Linked DNA regions of Homo sapiens. The protein of the gene in region 3 purifies or fractionates together with the protein of the main gene of each other region. This does not show direct contact. Each region holds a gene or a part of one and is shown on either strand. Other genes may lie near its edges.

Region 1 (3,868 bases), on a different chromosome or scaffold from region 3:
ACTAATCTTCAGAAAAAAGAAACAGTAAAGTTTCAGAAAAAAGAAACAATAAAAAAAAATGACAGTGAATCACGAAAGTTCAGCTTTGCTGAAATTAAGACTCATATAAAAAGTAGAAAGATATAAATGGAAAAGATAATTTAAAGCAAATCATTAGCTTTCTTAAAGGCAAGCTAAAAAGTATGCAATTTATTATCTGGGAATGCTGAAGGTTTTGATCAAGCAATGGGATACAAACAAGGCTGGGCATCCATGTCAGAAGAACTGGAAGGGAGAAAGGCCTAGAGATAAAAACAGATTTGTTAGGAAGCAAACTGCAATCATTTAGATACGGAGTGTGAGCCCCCTACTAAGCAATGTCAGTAAGGATTATTAAGAGAGAACCTCATGACTAAGTGAATGGGAGGAAGGAGAAGCCAAAAAATTTCAAGCCAGCATAATTTGGAGAAATGAAATTAAAATAAGTGAATCCAGAAAACACTTCTTTTCAGAAATTAGTTTGAAGTTTAGATGAGCGATCCAAGCAGATATACAGCCAGCAATTAGAGATAAAAGCTTAAGACTGTGAAGAGTGGTTAAGTCTAAACATACTTATGTGAAAATAAATGCAGAGTAGAGGTTCTAGTTTGGAATCCATTAACAAGCTCAGAGTGAAAAGCTCTGAAATTCAATGCAAATGTGTATGTATTTGTAAATCCTAGGGAGACAGTCTTTAATCAGACTTTAAAGGATCTACAATATACACTCCAAAAAAAGTTTTTAAGAACCACTGGCATGTATTACAAAGAAAACCATTCATGGGAAAGGTCTTAGTCCGTTTGTGCTGCTATAACAGAATACCACAAGATGGGTAATTTATAAAGAAATTTATTGGCTCACAGTTCTGGAGGCTGGGAAGTCTCATATCAAGGTACTGGCAGGTTTGGCAATTCTGATTCCAAGATAGACCTTGAACACTGCATCCTCCGGAGTTCCTCCCATGGCAGAAGTCAGAGGTCTCCCATAGCAGAAGTCAGAGGGGCAGAGGCAAAACCTAACCTTTTATAAAGGCATTAATCCAATCAACAAAGGCAGAGCCCTCGTGACCTAATCACCTCTTAATACTTAACGAAATTAAATTTCAACATGAATTCTGGAGAAGACAAACATTCAAATCTTAGCAGTAATTAATGAAATGTCAGAAGTAAAAAATGGATGAAGAAAAAAATGTCAATGTAACAACACTGAAAAATACAATTAGAATCTGAAGAAAAGGAACAAAAGAGGGTAAGACTGACTTAAGAAAAGGAACCAACACATTAGGGATTCAAGGCAAGTAAGTTAAAAAGGTGGCATCAACACTGATGTTATACACGCATAGGGCAAAAAATATAAAACTTCAGGCAATAAATATAAATTGATTGGTAACACTGAGGTAAGTAATTTTGGTTGTAATTATATTACAACGAAGAAATTCTATTCCAAGACATTAAGAAGTAAATGGCTGAGGGCAAATTAACAAAAAATTAAAAGTCTGACTACTACTTCAAGATTTACCAGCGACAGGAACAGAAAGCTAGCAAGAAAGTGACTAGAAGCGTTTTATCTTTTGTTTTGTTTTTTGCTATTATTGCTGAGTTTTTCCTAAAGAATGGGAAATGGACTTACTATGCCAAAAGAAGCCAACTGAAAAGGAAAGGTCAAAGGAATCAAAAATACTCAAAAGTTCAGGAGTAAAAAGATCATTTAGCCAACCCAAAAGAATAACTCTTCCTATCAGACACGAACAAAAATAAATTTTAATGTGGTGAGAAAGGTGTAGTAACAAGTACAGGTGAAGGGGAAAAATACTACAAAAACCACAAAGATGTTTATTTCTTAAACTCTAAAGCACTGATAATCACGATGCTTTAGAACTTTGTTCTTTTACAATAGTAGCCAATACTATCAAAATGTCATAGTAAAAAAGTATATGCAGTAACAGAAAACACTAGGATGCTGCATTCTGTAGTAGTAAATTAAGAATATGCACACAGCTCTAGAGTCAAAAAGCCTTAGTTTAAATCACTGTGGGCAAATAACTTCATGCTTCAGTGCCTCAGTATCATCACCTGCAAAATGGAGAGATAACAATGCTTACCTCATAAAACTTGTAAGTACAATAATACAAAATGTTTAACAACAATGCATACAGTTTAGGTGGTAGTCACAGCAGGAGTGTTGGTGATAATTCTAACAGTAGCAACAGTAGTAATGTAGCCTATCTGTGTTTAATCAACCAATATCTAAGAAAGGAGGGGAAGGGCAAGGCTCACAAACATGTGTCCCATTCAACCCTTTCAACTATAGATGGAAATACTGTAATTCTTCCTATTATACCAATAAGGAAAGAGGAGGTTTCTTTGCCTAGACAGCTAATAAATGGCAGAAGTGAGATTTGAATACTGATCTGGACACAGAGATCTTCCTTCCACCACACACTTCCTCCACAGCACTACACAGTGGCAGAAGCACAACACTAGGCATTTTGTTCTTTACTACTCAACTCACAAAACCTCAGTACGTCATTACATCCACCTGCCCCTCAATTTTATTTTCTAAAAAATTAAAGTTTCATTAGATGTTTAGGTGTCTCTTCAGGAAAAAAAAAAAAACATGACTTTGATGTGTAAGTCCACCTAAAAGTTTTAAATACAGTAGAAAGTGTTTTCTGTTTTTTTTGTTTGTTTAAAAGTTTACTACAACAAAGGAGCTTAATTTTTTTTTCAGGACTTCTCATCATCAAAACGAAATGTTAGAAAAAAGACTAACATTTAGTTTCATATTATTGGCAAGTATGACTAAGCAAATCTTTGAGATAACAAAACATCAATCTTAAGCATTTCAAGATGACAATTTTAATAAAGTTCAAAATTCTCAATTTATGAAAAAGACATTGAAAATTATTTTCAATAATTTATGAAACTCAGAACCCTGATACATGTACAGAAGTTATGAAACAGTAAATACAGATATGCAGACTTCTATTTCACGCTGAAAACACAGCCAGGCTTTTTTTTTTTTTTTTAAACATCCATCTGAAAACCCTCTTGCCCTAAAACCCTTCACTGGCTTCCCACTATCCTTCAATAACATCCAAAGTCTTAAACATGACTCAACAAAGTCCTGTGTGATCTGGCTCCTATCTCTGGAGCTTTCCACTGCCATTCTTCTCCTTTGCTTTTTTCTATTTCTTTCAATTCCTCCAACATATCTTTTTTGTCCATTTTTAGGACCTCCATACAATCTGTTCACCAAACCTATAACGCTTTCACAGGTCTCCAATCCCATCCTTTTGCCCCAGCAAAGTATTCTTCATCCTTCCAAGCTGAGATAAACATTACACCAGGGAAGTGTTTCCTGATGTTCCCAGACTTCAACACCTATCTTTCCTGCTAAATGGTAAATAAAATGAAGTGAGTCATTTCATGTCTTGTTACCTACTATATCTTGCACACTGCTTAGCACAGAGTAGGTTAAGTACTCTTAAAATAAATGTTTGCTGAATTAACACATTCAAAATGTGGAGTAAGTCCAAAACCATGAAGTATTTAACCACCACAGGTAACTAAAAAGTTTTATGTAAGTTTCAAGTTACAGCTTACCCTTGGTCCTCTGTATGTTCCTCTCTCAAACAGAGGTCGTTTGGTAATTACAATGTTAAAGCAAAAAAAAAAAAAAATTCCTTTTAGATAACAGATCATAACATTTCACAAAACCAACGTTAGAAACCACTGATCCATAATTGGGATCAGCTTTTATAAGTCATCATACAAAAGAATCCACCTGAAATGCAATTAAAAGGACAAGAACTTGAATAAGGGCTCAATTTTACCACAGCTACACACAT
Region 2 (3,868 bases), on a different chromosome or scaffold from region 3:
GAAATCCTTGTACTAAGAAGGAGGACTCAGAAAAAGATTCAGAAATCCCCTTTTCTGGTTTCTCTATAGAGTTTCTGGTAGACTCACACACATTGCAGATACTATTATTTTAATTTACTTTAAACTCTTTCCTAGCCAAGCACCATCCTATTTTTGTTTAGTCTCTCTTCACAACAGTCTCTAGGACTAGAGCAGTCACCTTTTTTGGGGAAGAGCCATCTTTCACAGACATTGTATTACTTCAGCAGAGTTAAAGGGACATGACAAAGAGTCAAGGCCAGAAAACAGCAGACACAGCTCTCACTCCTAAGCCACATGACTTACTCTTGCAAATGAGCCTCACACTGTACAAGGCTCAAATTTGTGCCTTATTACATGTCACGGGCACTCAGCTTTGCTCGTGATGAACCCCCAACCATGAACACTGATGATGTGAATATGAAGGGTCAATACAAGTAGCAGAAACCTCAAATCTCTCCAGAAGTCAAGTTAACAACAAAGATAAGTGATGCAGATTAGGGAGCTTCTATTTATATCCATGCACATTGATGGGGAGCAGCACATCTGCCTAGATGGGGCTACTAGTTCCCATCAGTTACTGCCATGTCATTTTGAACCAGATTTTCTATTGTCTTTTTTTTTTTTTTTTTTTTTTTTGAGACAGAGCCTTGCTCTGTCGCCCACGCTAGAGTGCAGTGGCACAATCTCTGCTCACTGCAACCTCTGCCTCTCGGGCTCAAGCAAATCTCCTGCCTCAGCCTTCTGAGTAACTTGGATTACAGGTGCCCACTACCACTAGGCTACTTTTTGTATTTTTAGTAGAGACGGAGTTTCACCATATTGGCCAGGCTGGTCTCGAATTCCTGACCTCAGGTGATCTGCCCGCCTCGGCCTCCCAAAGTGCTGGGATTACAGGCAGTGGCTCACTCCCGGCCCAGATTTTCTATTGTCTTAAGAGAAAGAGGTGATCTGAACTTGCATGTAAAATGTCTGATTTTTAAAAGGTATCCTGCAAGAAAACATTTTTTGAAAAGCTTGATTTGCCCAAAAAGTCAACAGTTTGTAGCCTCTGAACTACTTACTTACCAAAATTATATAAAATATACTCCTCTGTTACCTAATTCCTCAATGTCTTATCAAACATATTTTGCACCAAAAGTTGGTTCCTATGAATTTAAATTTCCACCTAACAACCATCCTCCTGGGTAAGCAAGGTATACTAGATTTTGCAACAGAAAAGCTTGCTACTGCCATACGTGCTTTAACAATTTTCTCTCATGTGTGAAAGCGTCTTACTTTTGAACGCTCCATTCTTTACGTATTAGGATAAAACAGCATCCTGAAATCACAGCTGGGTTCCGAAACCATTTATATTTCAAGACTGTTCTCTAGCTTGTTCCCCTTTCTCCCCAAATCACAGTACTTTTAAATAACAACAAAAGGAGGCTTACAGCAGGAGACTTGCTGCGGTATTGGTTAGCATGCTGCTGGAGCAAATCCAGTGCTTTAGATTCAGTGGTTGTTTTCGTGTTGACGCTAGGGCTGGTATTGACTTTCTCTGTCTCTTCTCTCCCTGACATCTTCCCATAAACAGGATAATGAAATCCTGGAGAGAGATATGCCCCTGCAGATAAACAACAAATGCCACATCAAGTTACAGGCTATATCTTTAAAAAAAATCATTTGGGTTACATGAATTTGGGATAAGAGTCAAAGAGATCTTAAAATAGGGGGTTACATTAAGAATGGGCTACATCATCATTAAACTGTGTCTAGCTTCTCCAATTTTCTTCTCCCAGTTAATTCATCCTGATGAAGGGAGGTTATAAACAGAATTGAGCTTATAGCCATTTCATACATTTACGTGTCCGCTTAAGTGAAAGGAATAGTAACTATAATGATTATGACAGTAAGTGCTTAGAATATTTTTATAGGCAATAAAGTATCTGTCAGCCTAACAGCTATAGCAGACCATCAGAGACTATGGAAACTATGGCTGAGGATTCTTGACATTTCATTAAAAAAACTTATATTAAATCAGTTTTATCTTTGGGACTTTAAACAGCATAAAAACAAGGAAAACAAATGTCACTCTTGAAGCTTCTAATTTATCTTGAGTTTTTAACAGCTAATATTTGAACATCGCCTCTTTCCTCCAATATAGTCAGAACCGACAACACGTACCAGGATAACTGTGCATTAGGACGGGAGAAACAGCCCGGTATGCAGGATGGCTGGGGTCGTACATCTGTGGGTAAGGATAAGCATGCAAGTACTGTATGTATGACTGATGCTGACTCATGGGTGAGGAGACAGCCACTCTTGTTCCCCGAGAGTCCTTCCAGTTCACAGGAGTCTTTCGATCATCATTTTTCAGCTTGCTCTCCTCCATTGATTGAGAATCAGGATGCTTGGCCTCTTTGGGCTCCTCTTTAATGCTTGTTAACGATACAGGAAGGCTGGGCACACCACTCTCTTTATTAGGAGTTTTCCTCGGACTATCCTCTTTTAATTTCTTCTCTCTATCAAGTTCTTCTGACTTTTGCTGATCCAGATATTTGGGCTGGTATACATAATGATGCCATGTTCTTGAATCTGGGTCCTGATTTTTTTGTTTTAAAGAAAAAAAACCCAACAGATTTGTTTTAAAATTTCAATTTTAAAGAAAACTTGTTAATAATCATGACAGCACTAGCACTCTTAATTTTAATGCTAAGTTGACATTTATTTCTGTGCTAGACACTGTGCTAATTGCTTTACCTCCTTCTCTTACAAAGTAATAATGTCCCAGGTAGGCATTATTACTGATCCCCTGTACAGAAGATAAAACCAAAGTGTTTAAAGTTCAGGCAACATCAAGGTCATGCTGCTGCCCAGTCGTGGAGCTGGGCTTCAAACTCAGGTCTGCTGAAATTCAGAGCTGGGCCCTTAATGTCATTTCTCAACACTAAATAACATCCTCAGACATATTTAATTCTGTCTTCGTTTGCCTTTTAATATCTCACACAGGTGAAAAGAATGTTAAAAACTCCAACTCAAGCTAATAATAGTAAATTTAAGTAATTGCTATAGCTATTAACATCACTTAGGAGGAAAAACTCTTGGTTTCCTAATACATTTTCCTCATCTACTGCAGCTGAGGCTTAATATATTGGCTCACTTCTCATTACGTGTTAACATCTTAATCAAAACAAAATTTCAAATTAATAGCACACGTTATGGCTTCTCTATTGGAAAACAAAGCCATCTATCTATAAACCCCCAAAATTATATAAATCTTCTGCAGCCCTGTGAATTGACAGCCTGATTTATGCCTCTGTAAGTGGGGAAACTGAGAATCCTAAATGGCCTTTGTGATCCCCATCCCATTCATGATATAAACCCACTGGGGATTCAGGTTCTCAGAGAACATGCAAAGTTGTGCCTAAGTAAATGTGTGTGTGTGGGTGGCGGTGGTGGGGGCTGGTGGTTCTTGCTCTAATGCACCAGGGATTATCTAAGCATGGGGGTGAGGGTGGGAGTGGGGATGTGCAGTGCTGGGAAATAACCAGGATTAATGCTCACGGGGTTGCAGTGGGTCAGGATGTCTGAACCATGACAGAAGGTGCTAGTACATTTGTGGTTTCGTGGTGACCAATTTTCAGGTGTTCTCAAGCTGACTGACCCATGGGGCTCTGGGACAGCTGTTGAGGCCTGCCACCCAAACCTCCTCACCCTCCTCACAAACATTCAGCACTGAGCTCTGAGTTTTGGGGTACTTAATATAGGGAGTAAGACTGAAATCTAGGCATCTCTGACCCCATGTGAAAGAAATTTGGGCCCCAAATTCTATTAAAAAGATTAATGGGAAATGTGAATTCAGGGACCC
Region 3 (2,942 bases):
CCAGCTCAAGGTGAGGCCGGGCTTCACCCAGATCGCCGGGGTGGCGGCAGGACCTGAGACCGGGGCTCACCTCTCCCCCTCTTCCCTCCCACAGTTCCGGAAGAAAAAGCTCAAGTTCTGCAAGAGCCACATTCACGACTGGGGCTTGTTCGCCATGGAGCCCATCGCGGCTGACGAGATGGTCATCGAGTACGTGGGCCAGAATATCCGTCAGGTAGGCACCGCCCGGCAGGATGGGCACCGGGGTGGGCATGGGGCCGGCCCAGCCAGACTGACCCCCTTTTGTGGCCAGGTGATCGCAGACATGCGGGAGAAGCGTTATGAGGACGAGGGCATCGGGAGCAGCTACATGTTCCGGGTGGACCATGACACCATCATCGACGCCACCAAGTGCGGCAACTTCGCGCGCTTCATCAACCACAGCTGCAACGTGAGTGCCCAGCGGGGGGTGGCCCCTGCCCCTGCTCCTGCCCCTGGCCCTGCTTCTGTGCCAGGAGGGCCTGGAAGCCCCGGCACGGGAATCAGCTCGGCCTCCTTCCCAAGCTCAGGTTGGCCAAGGGTTATAGGGAGAGGAGGACATGTGAGGTCTTTTACCAGGAGCTCTACTCCTCTGAGCCTCAGTTTCTCATCTGTCAAATGGGCATAGTGAGACTTCTGTGGCATTTAGAGGACTCAAAGAAGTGGTTGGTTCAGTTCATTGGTAATTTCGGAGTTATTTCTCTGCGTTAGCCTTTTCTCCGTGCCTTCATTGGTCAGGCTCAGTCCTGCTCGGGCCGAGCTGTCCACTAGAACTTTCTGCAAGGGGGAGGTGCACTGCGTGCATCTGTGCTGTGGGTTAGCCACATGTGTGGTGGTGAGCACTGGAAATGTGCCCAGTGCATCTGGGGACCTGAGTTTTAAATTTTATTTCATTTTGATGAATTTAAACTTAATTAGCTTGTGACGACTGTATTGGGTGGTGCAGGCCTAGAGGGGAGGGACACTGATAACAGGGATTTGAGTGCTGAAGGAAGAGCACAGGAAGCTCTGAGCAGGAGGCAGGCATGTTCCGGGGTGGATGCCCCTGACTTTGGGTTCAAGTCTTGGCATTGCAGCTTAGTGAGTTACTTAATGTCTCTTATGCCTGAGTTTCCTTGTCTGTAAAACAGAGACAATAACAGTCTCTCCTTTTAGGTTGTTGGGAGGGCCACATAGGTGGGTCACTGCACGTGGGCCATTTGAGTGCTGGCCAGGCCAGTCCTCAGCGCCTGCTGGCTCTCTTCGTTGTGACTTGATCCTTGCCTGGGTGGTAGGGACTTTCCTGTGAATATCCGGGGAGATCTGAGGGGTGAGAGGGAATTGCCCAGGGGAAGCGGTGCTGGGGCAAGGGGAACTGCGTGTTCAAAGGCCCTGGGGCAGTTGGGAGAACACCTGTTTGAGAGATAGCAAGGGAGGCAGTGGGCATGGGGTGGGGTAAGAGGATGGGGTGGGCAGGGCTGAGGGTGGCCAAGCTGAGGAACTAAGTTTCTCTGAGAGCCAAGGTCGCTGGAAGGTTGGAGCCATCGGGCAACAGGTTCTGCTATCCCTTTGGAAACGTTTCCCTGGCTGCTGGGGCAGGAGTGGATTTTTTCAGGGGTGAGAGTGGCCAAGGGGGCTGTAGCAGGCGGGTGAGCAGTGATGGGGGCCTGAGCGTGGCTGGTGGCCCCAGAAGTGGAGAGCAGTAGACACAACCAAGAGGCCCTTCCGGGACTGAACTCACCGGCCCTGGTTGGGGCCAGATCTGGACTGAAGGAGGCAGGGAGGCAGATGCTCTGGGGCCTGGGTGTGTGGTGCAGCGGCTGCCCAGAGCAGGAGCAGATCATGCTTTAGGTGTGAGCTAAGTCAAAGACAGTACCCAGGGCTGCCACTGGCAGACAGCAGGTAGTTGCATTTATGGGCTTGGAGGCCTTTACCTTTTCTGTAAAGGGCCAGATAATAAATGTTTTTGGCTTGGTGGCTCAGATGATCTCTATGGCAACTACTGAACTTGGCTATTGTAACAAAAGCAGCCACAAATTATATGCAAATGAATGGGAGAATGGATATGGCTATGTGCCAGTAAAACTTTATTTACAAAAACAGGCTGCTAGGGGCTATAGTTTGCTGACCCTTTTTTTAGAGCTCAGAAGTGAGACCTGAGCTAAAAATAGACATACATTTGGGAGGCACTTGTACTACGAATGGAAATGAAAGGCCTGGGAAATAATTTTTATCATCATTATTTAATATCAGAGGCAAGGGGTCACCCCTGGGGGTCGGGGGAGCCAAGGTCCAGAGCAGAGCAGTGGGCTGGGGGTCACGTGGCATGTCAGGCCTTAAGCACAGGCCTGGTTGGGTTTGGGGGGTCTGCAGTGGTGGGGGACCCTGGGGGACCAGGGGCTCATTCTCCCCCCCACCTTGCCTGCAGCCCAACTGCTATGCCAAGGTGATCACGGTGGAGTCACAGAAGAAGATAGTCATCTACTCGAAGCAGCACATTAACGTCAATGAGGAGATTACCTATGACTATAAGTTCCCCATCGAGGACGTCAAGATCCCCTGCCTCTGTGGCTCCGAGAACTGCCGGGGGACCCTCAACTAGGCCCCGGCACCAGACTCAAAGGATGTCAGCCGTAGCCCTGGGACTCCCGAGCGTGGAGCCCCTGGCCCCGGGGCCCGGCCCCCCGCGCCCGCCCCCATTTCAGGTGCTGTCCTCTACCCAGCGGCCATTCAGGGCCTGGCGCCCCACACTACCCCCTGGAGCCCCTGGCTCCGGCCCCTCCGCGGGAAAGGGCTTCTCTGTCGTTCAGCCCACGTCTCTCTCATTTTAACAAACGCCCCTTTCAGGATTTCTGTTTAACTCCAGCATCAGCTTCTCTCTCTCCGTCTCTCCTCCCCTCTCTCTCTTCTCTGTCTCTTCTCTCTCCCACCATCACCCTCGGCCT
Region 4 (3,868 bases), on a different chromosome or scaffold from region 3:
GCCTCGGCACCCGGCCAGTGTCTCACATCCTCATCCCCCAGCTGCCAACAGACCCATCCCCAGGAGAAAAGGGAAGGAAGAAACGGAAGGCAAGGGGCACACTGACAGCAGAGGAAGAGACCCCCAGGAATCCCCTGCCCCGCCCCCAGCCGAGGTCTGACTCCAGGCCCAGAGGACTTCGGAGGGCCGGGAGAGGCAGGGAGGGGAGGAGAGGCACCGAAGAGTCAGGCTGAAACCTTCCAAACAGTCTCAGTCCCCAGGCGTGAGCGGCCACAGTGCTGCTGAACAATGCACTTTTGAATTCAATTAAAGCGATTATCTGTTGTGCCAAATAAATTGTGTACAGCATATATCCTGTGGCACTTTACACCTCCAGGCTCATTATTCCCTAACTGTTTCCTCCTGTTTATGCCTCTCAAATTAAATTGCTGATAATATGCGCCAAAATAAAAAATGAACGCACCTTGTCCCAAGAAAATTGATTCTCCCTTTTCCTGAACTGGCGATGGCCAGGTTTTATATACTCTGTTCTTGGTGATCATTAGTAATTCAATTTTCTTTTTATTAGCCCCCTTATCTGCTGAGCAATATAGTGGCAGGGCTGACCTCTTTCGCACGGGTAAATGTTTAAAATCTTTTCCCTGATTAATTTTGCCAGTTAAGAAAAAGAGGAGAAATGGCCCGGCTCTTAGCCATCACAATGAATAAAGCTTAATGTTGATTGTGACGGAATTTCTAATGCCAGGGAAATTGATTGAACGCGGCAATTACGCTGCAATAGTAACTCAGGGGAGATGGGATCGCTTTCTCCTGGCCGTAGCCTTTTGGTTATTTAAAATAATCCAATTTGCAAGGATAATTATGTATTAGCGTTTTATCTGCCACTTGAAATGAACAGGGGAGTTTCGATACTGGCCCAGCATTAGCAGGTTATTGCTGCAAATTACTTGGTATCTGCTTTCTTTCACATAAAAAGGAAATTACGCGATTACCAAAAAAGGGTGGACGGAGGCGATAGGAGGGGCAAGCATGCCCTCTGCTGGCCACTGGGCCGCACGGCAAGGCTGAAGTGCGGCGGGGGAGGGAGGCGGCAGCAGGGCTGCCTGGCAGCTTTCAGAAGCCCCTGTCCCTGGTGCATAAGTCCACAGGGCAGTCGTCCCCAGCTGGACACTGGGACACTGCCGTCTCCTTGAAGAGGAGAGGTGGAGCTGGAACTAAGCTTTTGCTGGGCAGAAAATGGGGAAAGAAAACTCCCAACAGCCAAATGAAGGAGCAGTCCCACCTGGCTGCCCCATCCACAGCCCACACGACCCCAGCATCCAGGAACGAACACCCCAGCCGATGGAGGCCTTGGCCACCCGGGAGGGCTGAAGGAGGGCCTGGGAAGGGCTCACTGGCTCACCAGAGCACTGCAGCGTTCAACGAAACAAAGCTGGGCCCTGCCCAGAAGCCCACTGGCCAAGGCAGAGGACAGGCAGGCCTCAGTTCCTAGGCAGGCAGGCAGGCATGGAGACGGTGGGCCTTGCAGGAGGGCACCTGGGGGAGCCACTCAACAGCTTCCTGGGCCCCAGCCTCCCATCTCCTCAGCAGACGCCCTGGCCACGCCCACCTCCCCTGCGGCCAGCTTGGAGTCTCACGGTGGCTGTCTCTGGGGTCAGCCGCCTGAGTGACCAGGCCAGGACGCAGGCTCGGCCTCTCACCTCCGCGCACATCTCCACGGGCTCCCTGCCTGCTTGAGAGCCTGCGGACTCCGCTCCTTGGCCTGGCGTCAGTGGCCTCACGCACAGGTCCTCCCGACTCTGCCCACTCGGGCCTGCCAGACACCCCGGGGCCCTGGACACGCCCCTCCCAGGGTCCTCCCCTGTCCCTCCCTGGCTTCCCAACGTAACCAGAACCAACCCCCCGTTCCCTCCTGTGGCCTACAAGACCCTTTCCCAGGACCTGGTCCCTCTGCCCCGTTGGCTGCATCCCCTCCAAGCCACACTCCCAGATGGTGAACTGGCCCCACAGCCTCCTTGTGCTCCAGAACACAGTAAGCTCGTTCCCACCTCCACCTCGGCCTCAGAGCTGAGCCCTATTCGCTCCTCTCTGCTCAGGTCACCTCCTCAGAGAAGCCCTCCCACTCGCCAACCACCTCTCTGCAGCTGGCCCTGTGCTCTCCCCCTGCCTGTTCCTCAGAAGGCATTTTCCACCCAGGAGCACCTTCCTGGCTGATGTACAAGCACTCCAGTGGCTGCCTGTCTCCACCACTGGAAGGCGGCTCCAGCCTCATCATCTCTTCACCTTCACTGCAGTATCCCCAGGAGCCGGCAGGCTGCCAGGCACAGTGACTCAACCACGCTTGCCAGTTGGGCCAGTGGTGGGCAAGTGAGTGGGACGCCTTCCCCACCCCTTCCTCAGACAGGACCCTCTCCTCTCACTCCATGCAGCCGCCACGCTGGTCTTTTTTTTTTTTTTTTTTTGAGACAAAATGTCACTCTGTCGCCCAGGCTGGAGTACAATGGCACGATCTAACCTCTGCCTCCTGGGTTCAAGTGATTCTCCTGCCTCAGCCTCCCGAGTAGATGGGATTACAGACGCTCGCCACCACACCCAGCTAATTTTTGTATTTTTAGTAGAGACGGGGTTTTGCCATGTTGCCAAGGCTGGTCTTGAACTCCTGACCTCAGGTGATCCACCCGCCTCGGCCTCCCAGTGTGCTGGGATTACAGGCATGAGCCACCACGCCCAGCCTCACGTTGGTCTTTAACTATGAGTTTGGCTGGGCACAGTGGCTCACACCTGTAATCCCAGCACTTTAAGAGACTAAGGCAGGAGGATCACTTGAGCCCAGAAGTTCAAGACCAGCCTAGGCAACAAAGCAAGACCCTGTCCCTACAAAAAAATTAAAAATTAGCCAGGCACAGTGACATGCACCTGTAGTCCCAGCTATTCAGCAGGGTCACTTGAGCCCAGGAGGTTGAGGCTGCAATGAGCTGTGACTGCACCACTGTACTCTGGCCTGGGAGGGAAGCAGGGCCCTGTTTCTAAAAACATTAAAAAAAAAAAAAAAAACGACGAGATCAATTACGCCCTTCCCTCTAGTGAGGCAGGACCGCAGCAGCCCCTCAGCTGTGCACTCCGAAATGGTCAGCCGGTGAAGCTGGTGGCCTCCCAAACCCACTCTTCCTGGCAGGAGTCCGGGGGGCGCCGAGCAAGGCCCCACCAGCAGGAAGCAACCTCCCCCATCCCCTGCCTATGCCCCACTCTACTAGAGGCCTGAAGAGGGAGCAGGCCAGGTGAGCAGGGCTGAACCTGCACCCAGTGGGGAGCCTCTCACCCCAACCACCACGCCATCTGCAAGCCTTGGCCTCCTAGGGCTCAGCAGACCCTGCTGGCCTCCCAGAGCTGGACACCTCCCCAACCCCTCCTCCCCAAGTGACCAGGGGATACCGCCAACTGTCCAAGCCACCCCTACCATCCACTCCCAGATAAGCCCACGACCTAACCACCATCCGGCCACCTCACTGTGGCCACCAGGGACCGCATGGGTCTCTGCTTGCTCCCTGTCACCAGGATGAAATCCACATGTCCTGGCGTGCAGCAGGTGTCGGCTAACGGGGTACAGCCGACCAGCGCCCCCAGCCCCACTTCCTCCCACCCCACTGTGCTGCAACACCCGGCTGCATCGCCCCATTCAGCCCTCCACCTGGGACCCAACGCCCTGCCCTCCCGCGGCAGCCCCCACACGGCTCTTGGGTCTGCCCAGGCCCAGCTCCTTCCAGAGCCGTCTGAAGCCTCCCTAGATGACGGTACGCTTGGCTGGGTTTCTTTTTTTTTTGAGACAGAGTCTCGTTCTGTCGCCCAGACTGGAATGCAATGGAACGAT

Evidence for each region.
Region 1: the proteins of SETD1B (region 3) and RBM26 purify together in Homo sapiens (affinity purification with mass spectrometry; one large-scale study listed by BioGRID and IntAct). This does not show direct contact.
Region 2: the proteins of SETD1B (region 3) and ZNF608 purify together in Homo sapiens (affinity purification with mass spectrometry, with the first as the bait; one large-scale study listed by BioGRID). This does not show direct contact.
Region 4: the proteins of SETD1B (region 3) and ZC3H3 purify together in Homo sapiens (affinity purification with mass spectrometry; one large-scale study listed by BioGRID and IntAct). This does not show direct contact.

The regions. Positions count from the first base shown.
Region 1 is NC_000013.11:79,399,406-79,403,273, forward strand, and holds part of RBM26 (RNA-binding protein 26), read right to left. Parts: exon of another isoform or gene 3,624-3,868; intron 1-3,623. UniProt on the Homo sapiens protein: May be involved in the turnover of nuclear polyadenylated (pA+) RNA.
Region 2 is NC_000005.10:124,642,060-124,645,927, forward strand, and holds part of ZNF608 (zinc finger protein 608), read right to left. Parts: intron 2,603-3,868; coding exon 2,185-2,602; intron 1,625-2,184; coding exon 1,452-1,624; intron 1-1,451. UniProt on the Homo sapiens protein: Transcription factor, which represses ZNF609 transcription.
Region 3 is NC_000012.12:121,827,641-121,830,582, forward strand, and holds part of SETD1B (histone-lysine N-methyltransferase SETD1B), read left to right. Parts: coding exon 1-10; intron 11-94; coding exon 95-214; intron 215-292; coding exon 293-430; intron 431-2,425; coding exon 2,426-2,599; 3' UTR 2,600-2,942. UniProt on the Homo sapiens protein: Histone methyltransferase that catalyzes methyl group transfer from S-adenosyl-L-methionine to the epsilon-amino group of 'Lys-4' of histone H3 (H3K4) via a non-processive mechanism.
Region 4 is NC_000008.11:143,531,243-143,535,110, forward strand, and holds part of ZC3H3 (zinc finger CCCH domain-containing protein 3), read right to left. Parts: intron 1-3,868. UniProt on the Homo sapiens protein: Required for the export of polyadenylated mRNAs from the nucleus. Enhances ACVR1B-induced SMAD-dependent transcription. Binds to single-stranded DNA but not to double-stranded DNA in vitro. Involved in RNA cleavage.